Regions from separate parts of the Homo sapiens genome. Here region 2 is linked to region 1. The links come from fine-mapping of genetic effects on gene expression. A gene starts in region 1. The other region holds a variant in brackets. All regions are shown on one strand. Distances are between the middles of the regions.

Region 1 (8,789 bases):
GGATTATAGGCATGAGCCACCGCGCCCGGCAACAGAGTGAGACTCTTGTCTCAAAAAACACACACACAAAAATCTGTTGTTTAAGCTACTCTCTCAAGAAAAAAAGACAGAAAGAAAGAAAAGAAAAACATAATGACGTTCAGAAACAGGAAGAAATGGTTTCCTTCATCTTGCTAAAGTGAAAAGCTACTTGTCACAAAGCTCAATGCCATTTTACCAGCTTCTCCAGGATCATCCTCACGTAACATAACAGCACTGATAGTTACATCTTCTGTTATACTGTGGGGCTCTGTGTTTGTGAACAGCCCGGAACGCTGTGATGAAAATGCAGCTGCCCAGTTACTGTCATCCAGATTAGTAACCTTAAAAAAAAACAAAAAAGTAAAAATACAGAAAAGTGATGGAGTTATTGTCACTGAGTGGATACTTTAAAAACAAATAAGGTTTCTAAAAATTATATGTATGTATGCGTCTTTTTTTTTTTTTTTCCCTTCTTGAGATAAGGTCTGGATCTGTTGCCCAGGCTGGAGTTCAGTGGCACGATCATGGCTCAACGCAACCTTTGCCTCTCAGGCTCAAGCCATCTTCCCACTTCAGCCTCCCAAGTAGCTGGGACTACAGGCACGTGCCACCACGCCTGGCTAATTTTTGTATTTTTGGTAGGTATGGGGTTTCACCATGTTGGCCAGGCTGGTCTCAAATTCCTGGCCTCATGTGATCCACCTGCCTCAGCCTCCCAAAATGCTGGGATTACAGATGTGAGCCACCATGCCCGGCTACTATAGTGTATTTTTAATACTTAGGTGAAGTCATTCTGCATCACAGCTTACATAACATTTCTTTTGCTATTTTTAATACTGTTCCATAGTGATTCCTAAAGAGTATCTCACCTACTTTTTCCAATTTTCTCTTTTATCCCCTTTAATACATTTTATCTCTTCCTTAAGATATTCTTCATCTGTTAACCTCTGATTCCTACTCTTGTATGCTTCAAAACAGGGATCAGATTTTATAGCCATCAGCAACCAACCACAGCATGTACTTCTTCTGGTCAGCAAACTGACAGATTAAAACATCTTATTTTCATCTAAAGGTTGCTGGTGTCACAGTTTCCATCTGTGATATCAGATGCATAAGGTTTTCAGTTTTTTTACTGTCTAATTATTTCAATCCATATAACCTAAAGTTACTGTTATGATGATTCTGACTCAATATTTGTTAAAAGACTTTTACATCAAATATCATATTTTTATAAAAAGGGAGAAGTTCTTTTTTCTCTTTTTTTTTTCTTTTGCAATCACAGGTCACTGCAACCTCTGCCTCCTGGGTTCAAGCAATTCTCACACCTCAGCCTCCCGAGCAGCTAGGATTACAGGCATAAGCCACCACTCCCAGCTAATTTTTTTATTGTTAGTAGAGACAGGGTTTTATCATGCTAAGCAGGCTAGTCTCAAACTCCTGACTTCTGGGAGGCCAAGGCGGGAGAATCACTTGAGGTCAGGAGTTCAGGGAGTGCTGAGATTACAGATGTGAGCCACCACACTCGACCCAAAAGGAGTTCTTAGCCCTATTTTTCTACATACCATGGAGAGATTTCCAAAGAACCCTGAAGACTGCGTAAGTCGGGGCGACTTCCCTCCTGTTCCAAGAATGCAGGAAATATCTGGCTGCCTTAGTAAGCTTCGGCTTGTTGGGGTAACTATAAACAAAAGGTTGGTAGAAAGAACCTAAAGTGCGTGAGCATTCATTATCAAAACAAAGTAAGCAAACAAACAATGAAGAATAAATTTTTCAGTTTTCCATTATTTAGACTCTAACCAAATAAATACTTTAAATGTTAACATTTCCATGATACAAGGATTTAACTTATTTTTCTAAATTTGAGCTGTAGGTACTACTGAGCCTAACAGGAAACATTTTACTGCAATTACAGATGCTTTCATTATAGAATAACTGAGCAGTTAAAGACACTAATCAGTCAACGGATTCTTCATATTTTAATTTTATAAGGCATACTGAGGCAGTGCAGTGTAGTGGGCATAAACTTTGGAGTAAACAGATCATTGTTTGAATCCCAGTTCCATTATTTACATACTCTTTTTTTTCTGTCTCAGAACAAAAAAAGAGTATGTAAATAATGGAACTGGGATTTTTTTTTTTTTTGCTCTGTCGCCCCAGCTGGAGTACAGTGGCACAATCTCAGCTCACTGCAACCTCTGCCTTCCGGGTTCAAGCAATTCTCCTGCCTCACCCTCCGGAGTAGCTGGGATTACAGGCATGTGCCACCACGCCAGCTAATTTTTGTATTTTTAGTAGAGATAGGGTTTTGCCATGTTGGCCAAGCTAGTCTTGAACTCCTGGCCTTAAGTGATCCACCCACCTTGGCCTCCCAAAGTGTTGAGATTATAGGCATGGGCCACTGCATCCAGCCTATTTACATACTTATTGTATATATTAGTTAACTTCTCTAAGTCTCACTTTCAGTTTTGGTAAAACAGGGCCAACAATACCCATGTCATAGTTACCGTGTGTTTATGGAAAGTACAGTACCTTGTACATGGCAAGAGTTCAAACGAATAATAACTGCAATCATTATTATTAGTGCTTATTGATATCGTAACCAAATACTATACTAATTATGTTACAATAAATGTTAGTTGCTATTATAATTACCGTTATTATTAAATGCTTTAAAAGCAAAAAATCTTACAAGGCTGTCGAAATGAGCTAGGAGTTCGAGGGATAACCTGGTTTCTTGGTGTAGTATTACCAAAATTTTCATCTTGAGATGCCTGAACTGTACAACGAGTTAAGAAAAGTTTTCCATGTAGAAAAGAGATCACTAAAATGAGAATTAACCATCTTTTTACTATACAAATTATGTGAATACATTTTTCAAGAACAAGTATTTTAGGGCTACCATTTTTCAATGCAAAGGGTAAATAATTCATTGCTTCTGCCATTTAAATGATCAGATGTCAGTCTTAGATAACTACACACTGAACTAAATGTTTTTAGTCAGTTTTCAAATAATAAAAAGAAATCTAATCTCAGCAGAAGCTGTCAGCAGTAAGAAATATCTTTATTTTTAGGGAAATACGATCTCATTAAATTTTTGCATTATATTTACCAAATGACAGCTCTGTGGAGTGAAAAAAAGTTTCTACAGGATTTTATTATAGCTACCATTTAATACTCTTATAAAAAGAAAATTCTACAACACTGATTCCAAACATGTTACAATTTTTATAATGATGCTTAAATCGCAAAGGATACGTAAAACTCTTTTCTGAGCACTCTGTTTCCGTGCAGTCCGTGTCACCTCTGCCTCCCGGATTACAGGGGATGATATCTCTCCAAAGCCACTCCTAAAGTAGTATAATCAAGCTTATATAAGTGAAACGAGAATATAGCATTTATAAAGAATTTTATCATCACAGTTGGAGTAAAGGACCCTGAGTAAGTTAAGGTATAGTCATTCTAGTAGCCAAGTCTTAGATCTTTTGTTGAGAACGCACTCCTGGCTCCAAATCCTGCTTATTCTTCAAAGCCTTACTCAAATCTTACCTGCACAAAGACTTCTCTGACTTTCTAGTACTCACTATGTTATTTTCTCCTAAGGAATTATTTCAACACTTGGAATCTATATTATAACACTGTTTTAGATAATTGCTTCATGAAAGTGAATCTTATTTCCCTTGTTGGATTGAGGAGTTACCTAACTGCAGGAATTCTCTCTTAAAAGATTTTCTGCAGTCTCCAAAATGCTTTAAACCATGGGTACTATTAAAAAACAAACAAACAACAACAACAACAAACAGAGCTTGCAACAACAACAACAAACAGAGCTTGTGAGATAGAAGGGTAAGTAAAAGAATTGTGGTAAATTGGAGCAAAATGACCCTTCAAGTTATTTCAACCCAGGAGGTCTCCTGTCCCATCACAACACTCCCTGTCAGTTTCACTCAAAGGTCTAGAAACTAAATTGTGCGGACTAAAAGGCCTGTGTTTAAGACAAGAATCTAATATGCTTTTCCTCCACTTAAAACCTTCAGATATTCCTTCAGCAGGAAAGTATGGGAAACAACCACATAGAAACAATTTTAAACGTTTAACAATTAAAATTAAAAACAAAAAAAAAAACCTTCAGATAGCTCTCTGGTCTATAGAAGTAAAAATTTCCTAAAATGATATTTACAATGTGACCCCAGTTTAGGGGTTCAGTCTTCTATTCAGCCACAAACATCACTTTAAACGTATACTGCATGTGACCACTGAGCTACACGTACTTTTTTTTCATATCCTAGCACCTCTGAATATGCTTCTTTTACAAAGACCTACATTTGCCCCCTTGAGCACCTGGTCAACAACTACTTACTCCTCAAAGAGCCTCAGGTAGGCTGGAGACACACAGATGCAGGTTGGCAATTTGGTTCTTGTATTTATTAGCTTCCGAACTTTCAGCAAGTTCCTTAACCTCTTTTAGTCTCAGTGTTATATATGAAAAAAGGATAACAGTACCCATCTCATAGGATTTTTCTTGTTCTGAAGATTAAATAAGCTAATAATATATATTCAACGCCTTTAGAACAATGGCAGTCACATAGTAGGTACTCAATGTTTGGAGTACGAATAATGTACTCTTATTATTCAAAGACCAGCTAGAAAGTTACCTTCTTTGAGGGGTCTTCCTGATAGTTACAGTGACAAGGAGACTTAATCGCCCCCAAACACTTACCACTTTACACTGCTTGGTTGTCTCCATTACACAACTAATTCCCCGAGGGGAAGGATCTTGAATAACTGATCTTTGTTGTAGGCGGCTAGCACAGTACCCAGATCATAGAGGGAACTCAGAATCTGATGCTGGCACTTGTAATCAGAAAGTCTGGGCTGAGATCCCAGTATCTTCACTGACTGGCTTTGTGATCTCAGGCTGGTCACTTAGCATTTCGAACGCCGCGCTACCTACCCCGCCCACCCCAGGAGCGAACAGTGTTGCTGCCCCAAAGCGCCGAATAGATCGCAGAACGTAGTGGGAAAGTAAGGGACTATTATGATCTGTACCCCACCCCGACGCACGCCAAGCGGCTTTTTCCCCATTTGTGGCCAAATTTCCCGGCATGGGGAAGGAGCCTTAGGGGAAGCACCCGGGACCTCCTTGGCTTCTTCTGGGAGTCTAGTTTCACCTATTTCGTTTCGCCAACAGGCGAGACGGGCAAGACTTCGGGCTCAGCTGCCACCATCAGTACTGACCTGTCCATGGCTAAAGCCTTTTCCACACACAACCAAAGTTGGCTGCAGTTTAGCTACCGCGTTTTAGCCTTCCCGCTCTCCGGAAGCAAGCCCTTCGACCCGGAAGCAGTCTGTCCCTAAAACAGACCCACAGAAAAGGGGTAGGGGAGAAGAAACAACGTTCCCATCTAGCGCATGCGCGACTTCAGCCTACAGGTGCACGCCCGGTGGGCGCAGGCGCAAAAGTTTGCCAATGTGTTCCTGGTTGCGTTTAGCCCAGACGCCCTGCGGCCGCTTTGCCTGACCAAAGTCTGTGGGCGTGGAACAGGCCCTGGGTTCTCCTACTGGGAAGAATGAAGTATGTTGATAGTCTGGAAAAATGTGAAGTCATTTCCTGGTATTCTCTGTCAGAAAGCGCCTGTTCTTGGAATTCAGATGCGTGGGCTCTGCCCCACACCTCGGGGATCTCTATCTCTCTGCCTACACTCAGTCCTTTGTTCTGTAGCCCCCTGCAGTTTTTGCAACTATTTTCCATAACTGCTATTTGTTCTTTACTTGGTGTTCTTTCCTATTAAGGAGAAAAAGTTCACCTGTATTAAAAAGTAGAAAGGCAAGCGTGAAATATGATGGTATTGCCCTCTATTTCAAAGTGCCGTCTAGGCAAAAAGTGGTGTATTTTGGTCTTGAAGGAGTCAGTCACATTTTTGTTTTGGTTTTTGTTTTTTCCAGTTTGAAAGTAGTGACTGGCTATTAACTGACCAGATTACAAAAATAATGTTAGATGCTTCAGTTTATCCGTTTAATAAGCCTGTTGATATAGTCTTTTCTGTTGCTGGCATTTATACCTTTTATTAATACAAAATAGGTAGTCCTTCATTCTCCCTCGTGGAGAAGATAATTTGAAGGATCACAGGAACTTGAGTTTTTCAACAGCATAGATCTCATGAATCAGATTCTCCAGTCAGATGATGCCATATTTATCAGGAAATCTAGCAATCAAAGCGTTATCTGTTAAGGTAATTTGTTTATTGATTTTGCCATAACCAATTTGTAGATCAGTTCATTTACTGATTTCAGGTTCAGGTACTCCATGTGATATATGGTTCCACAATCCTCAGCGTGTTAACTGAAGCCTTGTTGAGTTTAACAAAGCTGCCATTGAAGATCTGGGGAAAGTGAAGAAGTTGCAACAGAGTTTTGGGCTCACACCATTGATACATTTGATCCTTAAGGCAAGTGACAATTTGGGTTTCACAGGTATATAGAAATTGCCAGCTTTTCTTGCCATATATTTCTTGTGACAGTGCTGAGCTTTTTTTTTTTACTTCTTGCTTGCTTTTTTTTGGACTTGATTTTTTAAATTATGTTTCCTTCCTTCCTTCTTTCTTTGTTTTTTTTTTTTTTGAGACAGGATCTTGTCCTATTGTCCCGGCTTACGTGCAGTGGCACAGTCACGGCTCACTGCAGCCTTGACCTCCTGGGCTCCAGCAATCCTCCTACCTCAGCCTCCCTAGTACCTGAGGTTGCTGGGACCACAGGCACGCACCACCATGCCTGACCTCCTCTCCTCCCCCGTTTTTTAAAAATATTTTGGAGAAATGGGGTCTTATGTTGTTGCCCAGGCTGGTCTCAAACTCTTGGGCTCAAGCCATCCTCTTACCTGGGTCTCCCAAAGTGCTGGGATTACAGGGGTTAGCCACCACATCTGACAGTGCCTAGCTTTTTCATAGATGTAGCTTTCTCCTTGCTTTTCTTTTTCTTTTTTTTCGAGATGGAGTCTCATTCCATTGCCCAGGCTGGAGTGCAGTGGTGCCATCTCGGCTCACTGCAACCTCTGCCTCCTGGGTTCAAGCGATTCTCCTGCCTCAGCCTCCTGAGTAGCTGGGATTACAGGTGTCTGCCACCACACCCGGCTAATTTTTGCGTTTTTGGTAGAGATGGGGTTTCACCATGTTGTCCAGGCTGGTCTTGAACTCCTGACCTCAGGTGATTCACCTGCCTCAGCCTCCCAAAGTGCTGGGATTACAGGCGTGAGCCACTGCGCCTGGCCTTCTCCTTTCTTTTCAAAGCATTTTATGGGCAAACTTCTTTCTCAGGCACTTGACCTTTAGCTCTGTGAAATTCCTTCATGTGTTTTATTTTTATTTTTTGAGACAGAGTCTTGCCCTTTTGCCCAGGCTGGAGTGCAGTGATGCAATCTTGGCTCACTGAAACCTCTGCCTCCCCGGTTCAAGCGATTCTTGTACATCAGCCTCCCAAGTAGCTGGGATTACAGGCGTGCACCACCATGCCCAGCTAATTTTTGTATTTTTAGTAGAGGCGGGGTTTCACCATGCTGGCCAGGCTGGTCTCGAACTCCTGACCTCATGATCCACCCGCCTCGGCCTCCCAAAGTGCTGGGATTACAGGCATGAACCACAGTGCCCAGCCTTCCCTCACATTTTTAAAGGGTTTCTGGCACAGCAGGAATCTTCTTTTTCTTGTCTTCAATACCCTCCATGGTTTCAGCTGGGAAAGAGGAAATCAGTGGAAGTTTTGCCTTAGGCATTTATGTTCTGCTGTAATTCTGGGAAGCATAGTTCCCCGGAAGGCCTCTTCATACCTTATTATCCCCTCTCAGACAACATGGCATTTTGATAAAAACATTGCTTTGGGCTCCATCTAGGTTCAACCCCCCTGCACCTGCAGATTCCTCATCTGTAGAGTGGAGAAAACAATACCTTTGTCAGGGGGTGTTGTGAGGATTAAACAAGATGTCATAGGGAGTCCCTGTCTCTAACATAAGTTTTAAAAATTAGCCACGTGTGGTGACACGTGCCTGTGGTCCCAGCTACTTGGGAGGCTGAGGCAGGAGGATCACTTGATCCTGGCAGGCCGAGGCTGCAATGAGCTATGATCATGCCACTGCACTCCAGCCTGGATGAAAAAGTGAGACTTTGTCTCAAAAAAACAAAACAGACAAACAAAAAAAACAGAGACATCAACTGTATACACTGTACATAGCAGGTCATTGAAATGTTACTTTTCTCCTTTAATAACCTTTCTGAAGAATAATGCCCTGGCATGGTCTCATTCTCCCACCTCCTAATTTTCCTGTATACAAGTTCACTTTTTCTTATGGAAAGTGAAATGTAGTCCTAATCAGAGCTGGGGCAAGTTTATTCAAAGTATGATCTGTGGTTCATGTTCTTGCTCTGTGTCCCTCAGCAGTTGAATTCCAATGAGTTTTATTCGTGTAGTATACTTGAAGTGTACTTGAGGTGATTGACCATGAAGCACACAATAAAAATTAGCCCTGTGTTTGGGGCAAAAAAATTAGCCCTGTGTTCAGTTCATATGCAAAGATGGAAAACTTTTTGGAAAGTGCACTGGGTTTCACTTTTGACACATTTAATTAGTAGGCATGAACACCATAGCAACCCTGCCAAAATTTCAAAACATATTCATTTCATTACCTTAAAAGGATGTGGAATAAATTTCTTATGTGGTGTATATTGTATACATGGTAGCTTTATGTTTAGTATTCTTGGTTGCAATGACAGAAATTGACTATG
Region 2 (8,789 bases), 84 kb before region 1:
CTGGGACTACAGGTGCACACCATCACAGCTGACTAATTTTTCTTTTCTTTTTTTTTTTTTGAGACGGAGTCTCACTCTGTCTCCCAGGCTGGAGTGCAGTGATGTGATCTCAGCTCACTGCAACCTACGTCTCCAGGGTTCATGTGAGTTTCCTGCCTCAGCCTCCTGAGTGAGTAGCTGGGATTACAGGCGCCTGCCACCACGTCCAGCTAATTTTTGTATTTTTAGTAGAGATTGGGTTTCACCATGTTGGCCAGGCTGGTCTCCAACTCCTGACCTCAAGTGATCCACCTGCCTCGGCCTCCCAAATCGCTGGGATTACAGGCGTGAGTCATCATGCCTGGCCTTTTTTTTTTTTTTGTGAGACAGAGTTTTGCTCTTGTCACCCAGGCTGGAGTGTAATGGCATGATCTCGGCTCACTGAAACCTCTGCCAGGCACACGTCACCATGCCCGGCTAATTTTTGTATTTTTGGTAGAAACGGGGTTTCACCATGTTGGCCAGGCTGGTCTCCAACTCCTGACCTCAAGTGATCCTCCTGCCTTGGCCTCCCAAAGTGCTGGGATTACAGGTGTTAGCTACCAAGTCTGGCCTTTTTTTTTTTTTTTTTTTTTTTTTTTTTTTGAGACAGAGTTTCGCTCTTGTCACCCAGGCTGGAGTGTAATAGTGTGATTCCAGCTTACTGCAACCTCTGCCTCTCGGGTTCAAGCCATTCTCCTGCCTCAGCCTCCTGAGCAGCTGGGATTACAGGCACACGCCAGCATGCCTGGCTAATTTTTATATTTTTAGTAGAGACGGGGTTTCACCATGTTGGCCAGGCTGGTCTCGAACTCCTGACCTCAGGTGATCCATCTGCCTCAGCCTCCCAAACTGCTGGGATGACAGGCGTGAGCCACCACGCCAGGCCCTATTTTTATTTTTAACCAGTGCTGTAGTTTGAATATTTGTCTCCTCCAAAACTCATCTGGAAACATCCCCAATGTGGCAATATTGAGAGATGGCGCCTTTAAAAGGTGACTGGGTCATGAAGGCTCTGCCCAGTGAGACTGGTGCCTTTATAAGAAGAGGAAGAGAGACCTGAGCTACCATGCTCAAGTCCCTCACCACGTGAGGCCCTCTGCCACCTTGGGTCTCTGCAGAGAGTTCCCAGGAACAAGAAGTCTCTCACCAGATGTGGACCCTGTACCTTGGACTTCTCAGTCTCCACTATTGTAAGAAATAAATTCCTTTTCTTTATAAATGACCCAGTTTCAGGTATTCTGTTCTATGCAACACAAAATGGACTAAGACAACGAGTACGCTTAGTTGTTGCTTCCTGAGTTCCAAAGTCCGACAGACAGAGCAGGTCCTCCATTCTTGCCCCTTTTTACCCCAAATGCTCATTGGCATTCTTGCAGCTACGAGTAATAATTAAAAGTGGCTAAGCCAGGCTGGCATGGTTGCTCACGCCTGTAATATCAGCACTTTGGGAGGCTGAGGCAGGAGGATCACTTGAACCCAGGAGTGAGACCAGCCAGGGCAACATAGCAACACCCTGTCTCTAATTATTATTATTTTTTTAAGTGAGTAAGCCAAATAGGGGTTTACTTTTCATCTAGAACAAGAAGACGTGTTGGCCAGGCTGGTCTCAAACTACTGGGCTCAAGTGATCCACCCACCTCAGCCTCCCAAAGTGTTGGGATTATGCGTGAGCCACCGCACCTGGCCACAAGACCCAATTTCTTTTATTTTATCTTTTTTTTTTTTTTTTTAAGAGATAGGGCATCTAACGGCATTGTTTTAGCTGCTCAACACTTTTTTTTTTTTGCTTATTTTTGTTTGTTTTGTTTGTTTTTGAGACAGGGTCTCCCTCTGTTGCCCAGCATATAGTGCAGTGGCATGATCATGGCTCACTGCAGCCTCAACCTCCCAGGATCAGGCAATCCTCCTGCTTCAGCTTCCTGAGTAGCTGAGACCACAGGTGCACACCAATATACCTAATTTTTTTTTTTTTGAGATGGAGTTTCACTCTTGTTGCCCAGGCTGGAGTGCAATGGCGTGGTCTCAGCTCACTGCAACCTCTGCCTCCCTGGTTCAAGCGATTCTCCTGTCTCAGCCTGCCGAGTAGCTGGGGTTACAGGCATAAGCCACTACGCCCAGCTAATTTTGTATTTTTAGTAGAGACAGGGTTTCTCCATGTTGGTCAGGCTGGTCTCGAACTCCTGACCTCAGGTGATCCACCCACCTCAGCCTTCCAAAGTGCTGAGATTGCAGGTGTGAACCACTACGCCTGGCCACCTGACTAATTTTTAAGTTATTCACAGAGAACAGGTTTTGCAATGTTGCCCAGGCTGGTCTCAAACTCCTGGGCTCAAATGATCCTCCTCCCTCGGCCTCCCAAAGTGCTGGGGTTACAGGTGTGCCACTGTGCCTGGTCGGCTCACCACTTTCAGATCTGGCTCTCTTCACCTCTCTTTTATAGTCATAAGCTGATTAGCACAATTCTAGACATCCGCAGCTACATTTAAGGCAGGAAGGAGGTGGTAATAGACACTACCAGCCACATCTGTCCCTTTTAATCAGGATACCCTAGAAATCCTCAGCAGACTTTGAATTATGTGCCATTGGTGAAATGTCATATGATCATCCCTCTACAAGGCAACGAGGTAAAAAGAGAATTTAGTATTTCTAGCCTCTAGAGTGGAGATGAACAAAGAATAGGAATGGGCATTTGCTTAGGAAACCAACTGTGCCTTACAACATTTTTGCACTTTTTTCTGTAACATTTTGTGTTAAATCATATAAAAATGCTGATCCTAACAAATATGGTCAATGAGTCACACCATAATTCTCTAAGAACTCCAGTCCAAAAAGGTTAATCTTGCTTTTAAACTCCAGGCGCGGTGTTTCACAGCTGTAATTTTAGCACTTCGGGAGGCAGAGCAAGAGGATCACTTGAGGCCAGGAGTTGGAGACCAGCCTGGCAACATAGCAAGACCCCGTCTCTACAAAAAATAAAATTATCTGGGCCTGTTGGTGCACACCTGTAGTCCCAGCTACTCAGGAGGCTGAGGTGGGAGGATCACTTGAGCCTAGGAATTCGAGGCTGCAGTGAGCTGTGATTGCACCACTGCACTCCAGCCTGGGTGACAGAGGGAGAACCTATCTCCAAAACAAAACAAAATAAAAACAAAACAAAACTCCAAGCAGAGAAAGACTTGACGAGTCGGATGAGTCTGATGATTCCTAAAGGAAATCCTTTTTGAGATTCCAGGAGATTCCATCTCCTCAACAGAGTAATTGATTTTGAGCCTCCCACCTCCTGAATTAAGGCCCACCCATCCCTATCCTGCACTGAACTGTAGACTCTTTTTTACTTCCTTACAAAAGTTTATTCTTAAATGTACAACAGACTCCAAGACGACACTTTATTGTAGCTATAGGTGGCAAAAGATGTTATGGCAGAGAATCCAGATGTTTAAATAGGAATGGGGTCAAGGGTCACCGCCCCAAGCACGGATAACAAAATTTATTTTTTGCCAGATTTCTTTAATTCCACCTGTGACTGGTGAGGGCTGGTGGCGGGGTGGCTTTCACTTTTAGCTCCTCTTTTTGTTTCTGCTTGAACGTCCCATCTTCCTTACCCACCCCCTTGACCTGCTTCTTGAGCTTTCTCAGGGCTTCTTGCCACCTTTGCAGCTGTACATGGCACCTGCCATAGGGCTCTAATTTTAAACTGAGAAATTGAGAAAACAGGAAACTGACTCTTTTTGGGGGGAGAGTAAGACAAACAGGAAAAGGAAAATGAA[G/T]ACGTGGTTGATACAGATCGTTGGATTTCAAAAGGAAAAGTCTACGGATAACCGAAAAAAATAAATATTTAGAAATGCATAGTCTTGGCTGGTTAAATAAGTATCCATGCTTGTTCTTGTGGCATAGTAGTTACGAGACATTTTTAGTTAAATGGAAAAATGTGAATTACTATAGTTTGAGTGATATGCTGCTTTCCAAATTAAAAGCAGCATAACAAAAACATTCCCCTAATACTCATAAATAATTCATTGAATTGGCAATAATTCACCTCCTAATGACTTCATATGAAGTATAAAGTAACTTCGATACATCAGAAGAAATCCTATCTTCTAATATAAGAAAGTAATATGATTACATTAAATGCGTCTCATATAAGTTATAAAAATGGTATCTATGAGTAAAGAAATGCTTGTGAACAAAAAAATTGATCTTATAAAGGTCAAACAGGCCAGGCGTGGTGGCTCACACCTGTAATCCCAGCACTTTGGGAGGCTGAGGTGGGCGGAGTACCTGAGGTCAGGAGTTCAAGACCAGCCTGGCCAACATGGTGATACCCTGTCTCTACAAAAATACAAAAAATTAGCTGGGCATGATGGTGGGTGCCTGTAATCTCAGCTACTCGGGAGGCAGAGGCGGGAGAATCGCTTGAACCCGGGAGGCGGAGGTTGCAGTGAACTGAGATTGAGCCACAACAACCAAGCCTGGGAGACAGAGGAAACTCTGTCTCAAAAAATAAAAAATAAAAATTAAAATTAAAAAAAAGGTCAAACAAACCAAACCCTTCTGATTAATTTATTCAATCTACTTTTATTATAAGCAAATGAGAAATTATAATTTTAATCTGAAAAAGCAGAATCAGGGGATTTTGGAGCTGGACAGTCCCCTGGAAATTATTTGGATCAAAGCCCTCATTTTATAGGTGAAGAAACTGAGAAGTAAGATTTGAGCAAGCTGCCCAAAGGCTTTGCCAAAGGCTATACCAGTGAATGGCAGAGTCTGGACTGGAAGTCCCAGTGCTGCCGTCCAGGTGAGACCTGTTCCACTGCATGCTACTAGCTCCCGGGCTGAGACCGGACTTTTGCTTGGCAGGTTTCTTTCTTTCGAAACTATTAATTATTGTATTTTTTGTAGAGACAGGGTTTTGCCATGATGCCCAGGCTGGTCTTGAACTCCTGAGCTCAAGAGATCCACCCAGCTTGGCCTCTCAAAAATGTTGGGATTACAGGCATAAGCCACAGTGCCCGGCCCATTTTCCTCCCACCTCTTTGTTCCTTCTCTGTTTCTTTTGCAGCATTATGTTCTATCATTGTATACCAGAGTTCCTCAACTTCAGTTATAGTCTGTTCTTGCTTTATGCTATCTTCTTCAGCAAGCTCATCTTGGTCTGTTTTCCTCCTTATCAGGCATACCCCAGAAACTCCTGTTTTATCTCCACCTCAACTAAACATTTTCCTGAGTTCTGGGCCTCTATAAACTAATTATTTGATTAACATCTTTTTTTTTTTTTTCTGAGATAGAGTCTCTCTCTGTCACCCAGGCTGGAGTGCAGTGGTGCAATCTCAGATCACTGCAGCTTCTGCCTCCCAGATTCAAGCGATTCTCCTGCCTCAGCCTCCTAAGTAGCTGGGATTATAGGCATGCACCACCGCACACAGCTAATTTTTGTACTTTTAGTAGAGACGGGGTTTCACCATGTTGGTCAGGCTGGTCTCAAACTCCTGATCTGAAGTGATCTGACTGCCTCAGCTTCCCAAAGTGCTGGGATTACAAGCCTGAGCCACCATGCCTGGCCAACATCTTTAATTGGATATCTCAGTATCAAGAAGGCCCATAATATTCCTCTGCCTCATCCCTCTCCTCAGTCCTCTTCTTGTGTTTCCTAGTTCAGAGAATGGCACCATTCTCTATCAAGCTGCGCAAATCAGACATGTGTGATTTTTTGTTGTTGTTGAGACAGGGACTCACTCTGTCACCCAGGCTAGAGTGCAGTGGCGTGATCATGGCGCACTGAAGCCTCAAACTCCTGGGCTCAGGAGATCCTCCCGCCTCAGCCTCCTGAGTAGCTGGGACCACAGGCCCACACCACCATGCCCAGCTAATTTTGTATTCTTTGTAGAGATGGGGTTTCATCATGTTTGCCCAGGCTGGTCTCGAACTCCTGGACTCAAGCAATCCACCCACCTCAGCCTCCCAAAGTGCTGGGATTACAGGCATGAGCCACTGTGCCCAGCTGAAGTGTGATCCTTAACTTCACCCCTTCTCATGCCCTCCATTTCCAATCCATCTCCAGTCCAGTTGACTCCAGCTACTCAATTATTTCCACTTATCTCATTCCACTACCTTTGAAGCTACCACCATCTCTAACTACAGTCATCTCCCAACTAACTGGTCTCCTGGCATCTCTCTGGTTCTCCTCCACTAATTTCAAAAAAAGAAATTTACTGTGACAGTGCTCACAACACTCCCCCTTGCTCTTACTAAAGATGCTTACCATAGCCTCCAGGTATTGTATGGCCTGAGGTCTATCTACATTTCCAGGTGCAGGACACACCATGTCTCCCCACTCCCAAATTTAGTCTCCAGACTCCATCCTTTTTACAGTTCTTTAAAAGCATCACAATTCCTCCAACCACTAGGCATTTGTATGTGCTATTCCCTCTTTCCAGAATGCAATACCCTCCCTCTGCCTAGCTAGCTAACTTCTATGTATCTATGACTGCAGCTCAAACTTTCCTCATGGACTCCCTCCACAAGTGCCAAGCCTGGGCCAGATTCTTTTGTTATGTGCTCACAGAACGATGTTCCCTTTAGCATTCATTGAGTTTGCTGTTTAATTATTCTTGTCTTGTTTTTGTTTAATTAGTCCTATCTCTAATACTAGACAAATGTTCCTTAAGATCACAGGAAATATAGGACTGTCTCTACATAAAAACTGTTTTATATCCATAATGCCTAGGACAGTACCTGGCACACAGTATATGCTCAATAAATTTTTGTTGAATGAATGCAATTATCATTATATTCCTGATATTAGCAGGTATAATCCAGTTTAAGTTTGGGAACAGAAAGACAAAACGGACCACATCTAATAAATCCGGTCTCCTTTCTTTTATTATTTATTTATTTGAGACAGTTTTGCTCTTGTTGCCCAGGCTGCAGTGCAATGGCATGATCTTGGCTCACTGAAACCTCCGCCTCCCAAGTTCAAGGGATTCTCCAGCCTCAGCCTCCCAAGTAGCTGGGATTACAGGCATCCACCACCACGCCCAGCTAATTTTTTTGTATTTTTAGTAGAGATGGGGTTTCACCATGTTGGCCAGGCTGGTCTCGAACTCCTGACCTCAGGTGATCCACCCACCTCAGCCTCCCAAAGTGTTGGGATTACAGGCGTGAGCCACCGTGCCCGGCCAAGGTCTCCTTTCTTTTAATCAAACTCTCACCTTTGGCCATTCTGCAGTCATTCACCCGACAGTATTTACTGACGGAGTGAATACAGAGTGCTTGATTAATGTTGCTGCTTTGTTATTATTATTATTATTATTGAGATGGAGTCTTGCTCTGTTGCCCAGGCTGGAGTGCAGTGGCGTGATCTCGGCTCACTGCAACCTCCGCCTCCCGGGTTCAAGCCATTCTCCTGCCTCAGCCTCCCAAGTAGCTGGGACTACAGGCATGCAACACCACACCTGGCTAATTTTTGTATTTTTAGTAGAGACAAGGTTTCACCATATTGGCCAGGCTGGTCTTGAACTCCTGACCTCAGGTGATCTGCCCACCTCAGCTTCCCAAAGTGCTGGGATTACAGGCGTGAGCCACCATACCCAACCTAATGTTTCTGCTTTGAAATACAATTTCAAAAAGTCATTAATAGGTTGAAAACAGCAAGATTTTAAAAGTATTTTAAAAAGTGAAACAGAAGAATGCTTACTTCATTTCACAGAGATAGATTTCTCCTTTATGTTATTTCTAAAAGGAGATGGAATTTTGTTTCATTCATTTCTGCTTATTTGGACAGGCCAAATATGAACAGCTGAACACGTCAGCGTTACCATGCATATGTTACACAGATGCCATCCTTCTTCCATCAGCTCTCATATGCAATACAGAAGTAAAAAGAGGTTCTCTTTATTTTTAAAAGGTAAAAATTGAAATTCAGTCACTTAACACAGAATAAACAATAATTACAATTACACTGGTAACAAAGGACAGCAAGCATGTTTTCTTTGAAAGCACTGTATCTGGTTTGTCTCCGTGCTTGGTCCTAGTATCTGGCATATTTTCCCCAGAGTTTTCTTTTCAGTGGGATGATTATCTTCGGGGCAAAAAAGTTTATCAGACTCAAGTTTTAGCAGTACTTATTTTATTCATTTATATACATGTAACCCCATCCTGTCTTACTCCAATCTTCTTACTGCCTTCCTACTGACACATATATTATATAACACCCTCCCCAAGTTCTATTTACGGTTAAAAATTTCTTTTTTTTTTTCTTTTTTTGAGACAGAGTTTCACTCTCGTCACCCAGGCTGGTGTGCAATGGCGCAGTCTCGGCTCACTGCAACCTCCGACTCCCTGGTTCAAGTGATTCTCCTGTCTCAGCCTCCCGAGTAGCTGGAATTACAGGCGCCCGCCACCATGCCCAGCTAATTTTTGTATTTTTAGTAGAGACAGTGTTTCGCCATGTTGGCCAGGCTGGTCTCAAACTCCTGACCTCAGGTGATCCACCCGCCTTGGCCTCTCAAAGTGCTGGGATTATAGGCGTAAGCCACTGCGCCCAGCCTACAGTTACGAATTTCTAAATGGCACAAATAAACTCAGCTGTTCTCAGTGCAGACGTCAAATCCTCACTGTGCTGAAACATTTTCCTCAGCTTTTGGGAAATAATTACAATTTAAACATACACAGAGAATGTTTCTTAGACAAACATAATACCCGAGGCTTATCTGGTAAAAACTAATTGCTCTGTCCTTAGCACAAAAAATATATATCTTTGTAAAATGAGA

What was found. PIP is the estimated chance that this variant, and not a neighbour inherited with it, causes the effect.
Region 2: its variant is the best candidate, but not a certain one, in a credible set for the expression of NUP107 in tibial nerve (GTEx, PIP 0.58).

Annotation. Positions count from the first base shown.
Region 1 is chr12:68,683,541-68,692,329 of GRCh38, reverse strand. NUP107 (nucleoporin 107) reads right to left here and starts at 5,352. Exons shown (of 28, transcript NM_020401.4): 1 at 5,257-5,352; 2 at 3,277-3,368; 3 at 2,711-2,797; 4 at 1,584-1,699; 5 at 218-362. The coding sequence starts at 5,264. It overlaps LOC100507250 (a long non-coding RNA gene), which reads left to right and starts at 5,471. Exons shown (of 3, transcript NR_038930.1): 1 at 5,471-5,593; 2 at 6,313-6,467. It also overlaps the pseudogene RPL7P42.
Region 2 is chr12:68,767,784-68,776,572 of GRCh38, reverse strand. It overlaps SLC35E3 (solute carrier family 35 member E3), which reads right to left. Exons shown (of 5, transcript NM_018656.5): 5 at 1-8,789. Among named protein-coding and RNA genes, the nearest start is that of SLC35E3, 26 kb to the right of the region's middle. The variant G/T (reference allele first, on the strand shown) is at 3,789.